Linked DNA regions of Homo sapiens: region 1 is linked to region 2. The links come from fine-mapping of genetic effects on gene expression. Tissue or cell type: esophagus mucosa. Region 2 holds a variant in brackets; the other region holds the start of a gene. All regions are shown on one strand. Distances are between the middles of the regions.

Evidence for each region. PIP is the estimated chance that this variant, and not a neighbour inherited with it, causes the effect. A credible set is the group of variants that fine-mapping cannot tell apart.
Region 1: it holds the start of SPATA19, and the variant in region 2 is the best candidate, but not a certain one, in a credible set for the expression of SPATA19 in esophagus mucosa (GTEx, PIP 0.81).

What each region holds. Positions count from the first base shown.
Region 1 is chr11:133,843,699-133,847,715 of GRCh38, reverse strand. SPATA19 (spermatogenesis associated 19) reads left to right here and starts at 2,203. Exons shown (of 7, transcript NM_174927.3): 1 at 2,203-2,347; 2 at 2,526-2,582; 3 at 3,076-3,207; 4 at 3,379-3,470. The coding sequence starts at 2,270.
Region 2 is chr11:133,901,334-133,905,350 of GRCh38, reverse strand. It overlaps IGSF9B (immunoglobulin superfamily member 9B), which reads left to right. Exons shown (of 20, transcript NM_001277285.4): 20 at 1-4,017. Among named protein-coding and RNA genes, the nearest start is that of MIR4697, 4.8 kb to the right of the region's middle. The variant G/T (reference allele first, on the strand shown) is at 2,342.

The DNA of each region.
Region 1 (4,017 bases), 58 kb after region 2:
ACTTCACAAAAAAGAATATCCAAAGTGACCAATAGGCAAATAAAAACATGCATGATGCCACTGATAATCGGTTAAATGAAAATTAAAGTATTATTAGTTACCACTACATCTCTACTAGATTGGCTAAATTTAAAGGAGCGACAATACTAAGTGTTGGAAAAAACGTGGAGTAACTGTCACTTTCATACATTGCTTATGGGCAGTAGATTAATACAACCCCTTTGCAGTACTGTTTGGTGTATATGAATGCTACACATATCTAAAGTCTATGACCTAGCAACTCTAATCCTTGGTATATACTCAGAAGATTTAGTGCTTATGTCAACCAAAAGATAGGTACAGTATAAAAATTTTCATAGCAGCATGATTTTAAACAGCATCAAATCAAATATAATACAAATGTCCTACTAAAAATGTTTTCTATCTTGATCTGGGCAGTGGTTAAACAAGTAAGTGTGTGTGTGTGTGTGTGTGTGTGTGTATGTGTGTGTGTGTAAAAATTTTTCTCCGCTGTATGCATATTTGTACATTTTACTGTATGCATTTTATAACATTGTAATCAAAAAGCAAATAGATTTATGTATGAGCTTCATTTTGACAACATAAGCACAGGATATGTCGTCGAGAAACTAATGAAAATTTTACTTCTGAAGTGAGTTAGAACAAGGTTGAAGGTATGGGGAAGAGATGGAACGTCCTTGAATGTATCTGTTCATGTTTTGATTTCTGAATCACATTAATATTTTAAATATTCAAAAATAAAATTACATCAATAAGGATGAAAACATAAATTTTAGGGGATAGCTGTAGAAACAGAGATGTTGACAGGTAATTTCATCTGCTATTTTACAATTTCCAGTCTTCCTTGGAATTAGGTAGGGGCCATAGGACTAGTTCTAGATCAAAAGCTCTAAGTAGGAGCCTCTGAGCTGAAAGGTGGAACACTGACCTGATTCCTCTCTGTGCTCTCTTCCCTGCTTTGGCAGTCATGGAGGTCGTGTCCTCTGAATGTGGACCTGTGAGTCTCCACATGGCACACAATTGCTCTGAAATTACCCAACTTGCACGAGAGCTTTTGAGAGTGAGAAATAAACATTTTGATTTGGAGGTTGGTTTGTTGCCTCAGTCCTCAGCAGAGCCTAGCCGATTCTGACTATGTCAGGGATGATATAAAATTGAGGCGAATTGTTGAGAGGGAAGACGTGTAGTGGCTGTATCAGGGGAATTGGAGAAAGTGATAAAAGGTTTTCTATAATCCTGAGAAGAATAAACGTGGGAAAATTTTTGGAATATTAGAGTTAGAAGAAAGCTAGGGACACAACTCTATCCCTTTCAGTATAAGACAAAGAAACTCAGACCAGAGGGACTAATGATTAGGTCAAGAGCACATGACAAGTTGTTGCGGGACAGGTTGTTACTGGTGGAGGGTGTTCAGGTTCTTGGCGTCTTAAACAAAGAAATGGACAAAACACACAAACGAAGGAAAGAATGAAGTAACAAAGGCAGAGATTTAACGAAAATAAAAGTACACTCCACAGGATGGGAGCAGACTGGTTACAGAATTTTCTGGGGTTTAAATACCCTCTAGGGGTTTCCCATTGGTTACTTGGTATATACCCTATGTAAATGAAGTAGTGGCTCATGATCAGTCTGATTGGTTGCGGAAAGTGACCAATCAGAGGCTGAAGTGAAGTTATAAAGTTATATCTCTATGCAAATGAAGACCTGGCCCACAACCAGCCTGATTGTGGGAGGGGAGCAATCAGAGATACTTTCAGTTTTTCATCTGCCATGCAGAAAAGGAGAGGGTTGCAAAGGGCGTAGCCTCTGGTCTTTTTGTTACTTGGGCACGGAAAGTTGGGGTTTTCCTTTTGATTTAGTTCTAGGAAGTCAGTGTAAATCGGCCTTAGGTTTCCTGGCTCCAGACCCCATCCTCCTGCCTGGAGGTGAGCTCCCAAATTAGTGCTTTCCCAAGAAAAGAATTCAAGGGTCAGCCAATGGTGTTAGACAGCAATCTTTTATTCAATGGTTCTGCTCCTTGAAGCAGGGTAACTCATAGGAGTGCACCCAGAGCCTGAAATGCAGGGGCTCTTGGCAACGGCATTTATACTCACATACATCATTTTCAAAGGGAGGCCATTGTCACATCACCATGGGTCAGCCAATCAGGTGGACACCTCCCTTCAATGACCTTCCTGTCCCATAGGAGTTCTCAGGCAGCTTCAATGGAAGGAGGGAGCCAAGAAGGGGGCCTGGTATACATTCAAAGATGATAATTACGACATGGATTGTGTATATTCTTGCTCGGAAAGGTGTAGGGCTTCCCTTCCTACCAATAACCAGTTCGGTAAGCAGCTTGGTGGTAGTCACATGGAATAATTTTTCATATATCTTCTCCCCCTGTGGGACCCTGCTGCACTTCATAGAGATCTTACAAATAAATTTGAGTAACAGTTGCGGGGGCTGGGTGGGAAGAGCTGAATTTCTAGGTTTTCTGAGGTCACCAACTTGCCAATTTGTTCCAGGACATTGACGTTGTGGAAAGTGAGGCTGTGTCTGTACTACATCATTGGTTGAAAAAAGTGAGTAAGATTTCTTTATGACTCAGGATATCCAAAATGCTAGAGAAGTGGTCTCAGTGGGTGTGGGGATCTGGACTTCCTTCTTCATGGAACTGGAACTCAAGTTCATTGCCAGACACCCTTCCTAGATTTGAGTCTAATTTCTTCACATGTGCTGGAGGACACTGTGGCTTGTGTCCTGGCAGGAAATGTGTTAGCACCACCACTAACGCCGTCCTGCTTCTCAAGCATCCTGGCTTAAGGGTTTCAGCTGCATCCTTCCCAGCTCAAGGGTGTCTCAGGAACACCTTGGGATAGGGCCAGGGACTTAGGGAGTTCTGAGGACTTTACAGGGAAGTAGCTTATTGTGGGAACAGTGAGGTAAGGAGTGTATGTGTGTGAATATGTGGTGTGTGAGTTGTGATGGAGAATGAATAAAAGGAAAGGAAGAGGAGAAGAAGACCCAGGGTTGGATGCAGAGTGACATTTTCAGAGGGAATTTCTCACCTTTCAGACAGAAGAAGAGGCTTCTCGGGGCATAAAGGAAAAGCTGTCCATCAACCACCCTTCCCAGGGTGTAAGGGAGAAGATGTCCACTGACTCCCCTCCCACCCATGGCCAGGACATCCACGTGACCAGAGATGTGGTAAATGAGAGTTTGAGACCTTGCCTGGGAGTAGCGGTGAGGGAGAGGGGAGAGGTGGGAGGTGCACCGTAAATGATTCTGGGCAAGGGTGAGGTGCTCGTCTGGGCTCTGTGCCAGCCCAGTTGGGGGCCACACTGGGCAGGAATCACATGGACCCTCTGGATTTCCCAGGTGAAGCACCACCTCTCTAAGTCTGATTTGTTGGCAAACCAGAGCCAAGAGGTCCTAGAGGAGAGAACACGAATCCAGTTCATAAGATGGAGGTAAGGTGTCCCACTTGCCCTGGGCGAAGGAAGGGGAGGGAGAGATGCGCAAGCCCCTCTCTTCACGAACCCTCAGATGCTCTTCTCTAGAGATGTCGTCTTTGGCTGACAAATTCCTCAGCCTTGCTTTGGGGTCTTAAGGGAATATCCTTGCTATCTTGAAAGCCCAGCTCATTTCTACATTTTTAAATGACTTGAGGGGTTGGAAAACTGGGCTTGCACTCCATTTCTTAAATGCTTCTGAATACATTTCAGATTTCTGTTATTTTTGCACTTGAGTTGCTCAGAAGTGGCTGCACTTTAAAGAGCTAAAAGAAAATAAGCTCTTAAAATGCAAAAGCCAAAGTTTTCATCTGCAACTGAGGTGTGGGGAGGCTTCCCAGCGCCCGAGGCTAGAATTCTGCACTCGGTTATGGTGGCTTCGCCAGCGTCCCGGGTGCCTGCCAGCTCACAGCCGTCCCCACTGCCTCTCGTGGCTCTGCAGATGCTGAGCCCCGAGGCCCAGGGAGCTGGCCTGAAGCCATCATGCTTCAGACAGAGGCTTTCC
Region 2 (4,017 bases):
CATCTTTGGCACTGCCCACGATCTGAATCTCCAGGGCTGAAGACTGCGTGGCTGGAATCTGTTTCTTCCTATTTTGTTAGCAAAAGCCTTTTCCAGGCTTGGGGGTGGGGTGGGGGAAGAATTGTACATAAAGTACATTTTATTAATCTGTAGAGAAACCTAGGAAAAGAAAAGCTAATGGTTAATCTTGGGCTTGCTTTGCTTGCATGTAAAGGAGCTTTGGGGGCACTGCAGGGATGGCTGGGGAGCTGCAGGAAGGGGCAGAGGGTGGAGCTGAGCGGGTCATGGAAGGCTCTGTTGAGTCCAGCCTCTGTGGTACTCTAGGAGCTGTGCACATTCCCACCGGGGCTTCTAACCCAGCCCTGCCTGGGTATCTTCTTCATATAAAGTGGATCTAGTAGGCAGTGTGTAGAGCCCCATGTGGCTGTGTGTGTTGCTTTAGGGAGAGGGCCAAAGAGGTGCCTTATTGGCCAGCTCTAGATTGACTAGGGTAATGGATGGGGCACTGGTGTTTCAGGAGGGGGAGTTGGAGAACTGGAGGGTGGAGGGGAGGCCTGTGTGCTTTGCCAGGTGTTGGTGAGGCTGGAAGGGGCACAGAGGGTGAGGTCAGGCATGGGTTAGGATGGTGAGACCACCCCAGGGGACACCAAGCCTCAGCATCTCTTTGAGTCATGTGATAACTTAGTTACTTGTAAGGGTGCAGGGTACACACTGGGGGATCATCCCAAGATGACGAAGAATGATTGCCTGGTGGGCATCTGGCTGGGGAGTGGTAGCCATGCAGGGCATGTGGGAGGGGGATCTGGGCATCAGGGACGGATTGTGGGGTGGGGTCCTGCATGTGAACGCAGACTGGATCTTGGGAGAGGTCTTGCTTCTTAGCTAGATCTTCCTTGCTTCTTCTAGAATTAGCCTCTAACACTAAGTGCCCAAACCAAACATGGACATCTTCTTTATATTGTATTTCAACTTCATTTGTTTTGGGGGCTCCTCAGGCCCAAAGCTGAGAAACTTGTCTTGAGATGCCCATCCTATCACCAGCTCTTCATCAGTGGAGAAGGAAGTGCCATTCTCATTTTCCTAAGCTGCAGCGGTGGGTTGCCTCTCCGTCCACAATCTGAAAATGTTCATGGGCCTTGGTGATGGTGATGGTGATAGAGAGGGGGAGCTGGAGCCTGACGTGCCTTCATCCCCCTTTCCTCTTGAGGTAGAGAGGCTTCCTTCCGGCCATGAAGTTGCACAGTGGCTTCGTGAGGCCTTCTCTTTACTTTCTCTTCTTTTGATAGGCTAAAGTCACTAGTCTGTGGTGGAGGTGGGAGGGCAAAAGAGTTTCACCTGAAACTCTTGGCTTGACCAGCCATTCTTCTCTCTTTAATGTCTCCAGCTCTGCTTCTTTTTAGATTAAGAGGCAGAATGAAAAATCTCTTCTTTAGAAGAAGTCAGTAAACCAAGGATCAAAGCCCAGATTGGACTTTCGCACTCTTACCAGCTTGCTGTTTGGCTAGGGGTACCAATCACCACCCTTCCCTCTGACTGCGAGTGAATCCACACTGGTTCAGAGCCTTATTTCTGGGTTCCTGTCTGTACTCTCAAAACCTTCTTTCAGGAGCAAGTATAATAACCCCACCAGATGTTCTGTGTGTTGGGTTGCCGAGAAGGTGGAAGTTTTTTTCAACCTCATTTTAAGCTGTTAGAAAAACACTCAGTAGATTGAATTTGGTCCAAAGACACCACCATCCCCTGAGGGATCCCATGTAGGATAAGGATAAATGAAGCATCCATACAGGGGTCATTAATGGCTGCTCACATCTTAGAGAAGGAAGAGTCTGGGTATCTTGGTTGCCATATACTCTGGTGGAACAGTGGCCAGTCATTAAAATCACATGGGTGTTGTCTTCTGCGGTGTAGAAGACAGTAGTAGTAGTTAGGGTTTCGGACGAGAGCTGGTGAAAAGCTACCGGCTTTGGAGCCCTGGCTGGGAGAGCTAGATTGGACAGTTTTAACCCCGTGGCTCAAATGCTCAGCTCCTGTCACTGGTCCTTGGTTGTCACCATTCCCATCACACTAGATGGGGACGTGAATGGCTGCCTGGGCCTGCCTTTCTTTCGGGTCTTGAAGAAGTGTGCTCCACCAATCCTACCTCTCTGTGGCACTGGATTTCCTGGATTTATTTTGCGAACTAGGGCAGGTTCTCCCTCGCCACCCCGTATACACACCAGTTAGCTTCCCTTCCCTTTTCCTTTCCCCACTTCTGTATGGCTCCAGGGATCGTGAACATGTGCGTGGTTTACGATGGGGAGGTGGTGGGAGGGGCAGGGAATCTCGGAGGGCAGGGGGTTGG[G/T]CTGGGGAGGTGACTTGCATTTTCGGCCTTAGAAATGCTGCGGGCATGCACGTGTGGGGTTTTCATATAAGCCATGGGAGGGGCGAGTGCCCAGCCCTCCTCACGCTGGTGGTAGAACCCAGGGCTTTGGCCTCCTTTTGGCATAGTGGTCTATGAAGCTGTATTTCTGGTGGAGGGATGAGCCTCCTCACGGTCATCTTGCAGTTCTTGAAAGGGTAGTTGTCAGCCACTCTATCAATGAGGTTTTATATGGCCTCCCATGAACAACGAGAGGTGTGCCATGGCCGACGGTGTCCTGGCAGGGCTGGAGAAGGGATTGTCTCATGTGTCCTTCTGCAGGCACCAGGTTGTCCCCCTGGTCTCTAACCCCCAGCCAGCTGTCTAGTCCAGTGTTTCTTTTCTGGATTCAGGAAGTAAGTGGGGTGTGTGTGTGTGTGTGTGGGGTGTGTGTGTGTATGTGGTGTGTGTGGTATATGTGTGTGGTGTGCATGTCTGTGTGTGGTGTGCATGTCTGGTGTGTGTGTGTGTTGTGTGTGGTGTGTGTATCTGTGTGTGGTGTGTCTGGGTGGTGTGTGTGGTGTGGTGTGTGTATTGTGTGTGGTATGTGTTGTGCGTATTGTGTGGTGTGTTGTGTGTGGTGTGTCTATTGTGTGGTTGTGTATGTGTGTGGGGTGTGTGTGGTATGGTGTGTGTGTATCTGTGGTGTGCGTGTATGTGTGATGTGTCTGGTGTGTGTGTGTGTGATGCAGTGTGTGTGGTGTGTTGAGTGTGGTTTGGTGTGTGTATGTTGCGTGTGGTGTATGCTTGTGGTGTGTCTGGTGTGTTTGGTGTGTGTGTGTTTGGTGTGTGTGGTGTGTCTGGTGTGTTTGGTGTGGTACATGGACTGTGTGTGGTGTGTGTGTGTGCTATGTGTTTTGTGTATTGTATGTGGTGTGTTATTGTGTGTGGTATGTGTGTATTGTGTGTGGGTGTGGTGTGTGGTATGGTGTGTGTATGTCTGGTGTGTGTGTGTGTGTGATGTGTCTGGTGTGCATGTGTGTGATGCGGTGTGCATGTGTGTGATGTGTGTGTGTGTTGTGTGGTTTGGTGTGTGTTGTGTGTGGTGTGTTGTGTGTGTGTTGTGTGTGTGTGTGGTGCGTGTGTGGTGCGTGTGTGGTGCGTGTGTGGTGTGTGTGTGTTTGTGTGTGTGGTGTGGTGTGTCTGTTGTGTGTGGTGTGTGTGAGAGAGATTTGTACAGACATGCTGATTTGCCTGCGTAGTGTCAGGCCCAGGAGACCCTCCTTTGTTTGGCTCTTTTGCTAGACAACTTCTGTTTGGGTAGGAGGGTCAAATTAGTAATGCACCATCTTTAATGTATTTTTTATGGAGACTGTACATAAAATTATATAAATCTACAGAATTGGTTCTATTTTAAGGAGAGAGGGGAATGTATGTGGGAGGCAAGGATCAGATGCAATCGTGGAGACTGGGAGCTTCGGGCGAGTGGCACTCGGGTGTGGGGAGCGGGAGGGCAAGAGATGAGTGCCGGGCAAGATGGGCAGGGGCCCGTGCCCTCTGCACACATATATAAATATAAAGAACACCTAGATAAAGTCTATATATCTCTATATCTATATGAAGTCATAGTTTGCTTTATTTTTGTACCTGTGCTTAGAGATGTTTTGAGCAGTGCTACC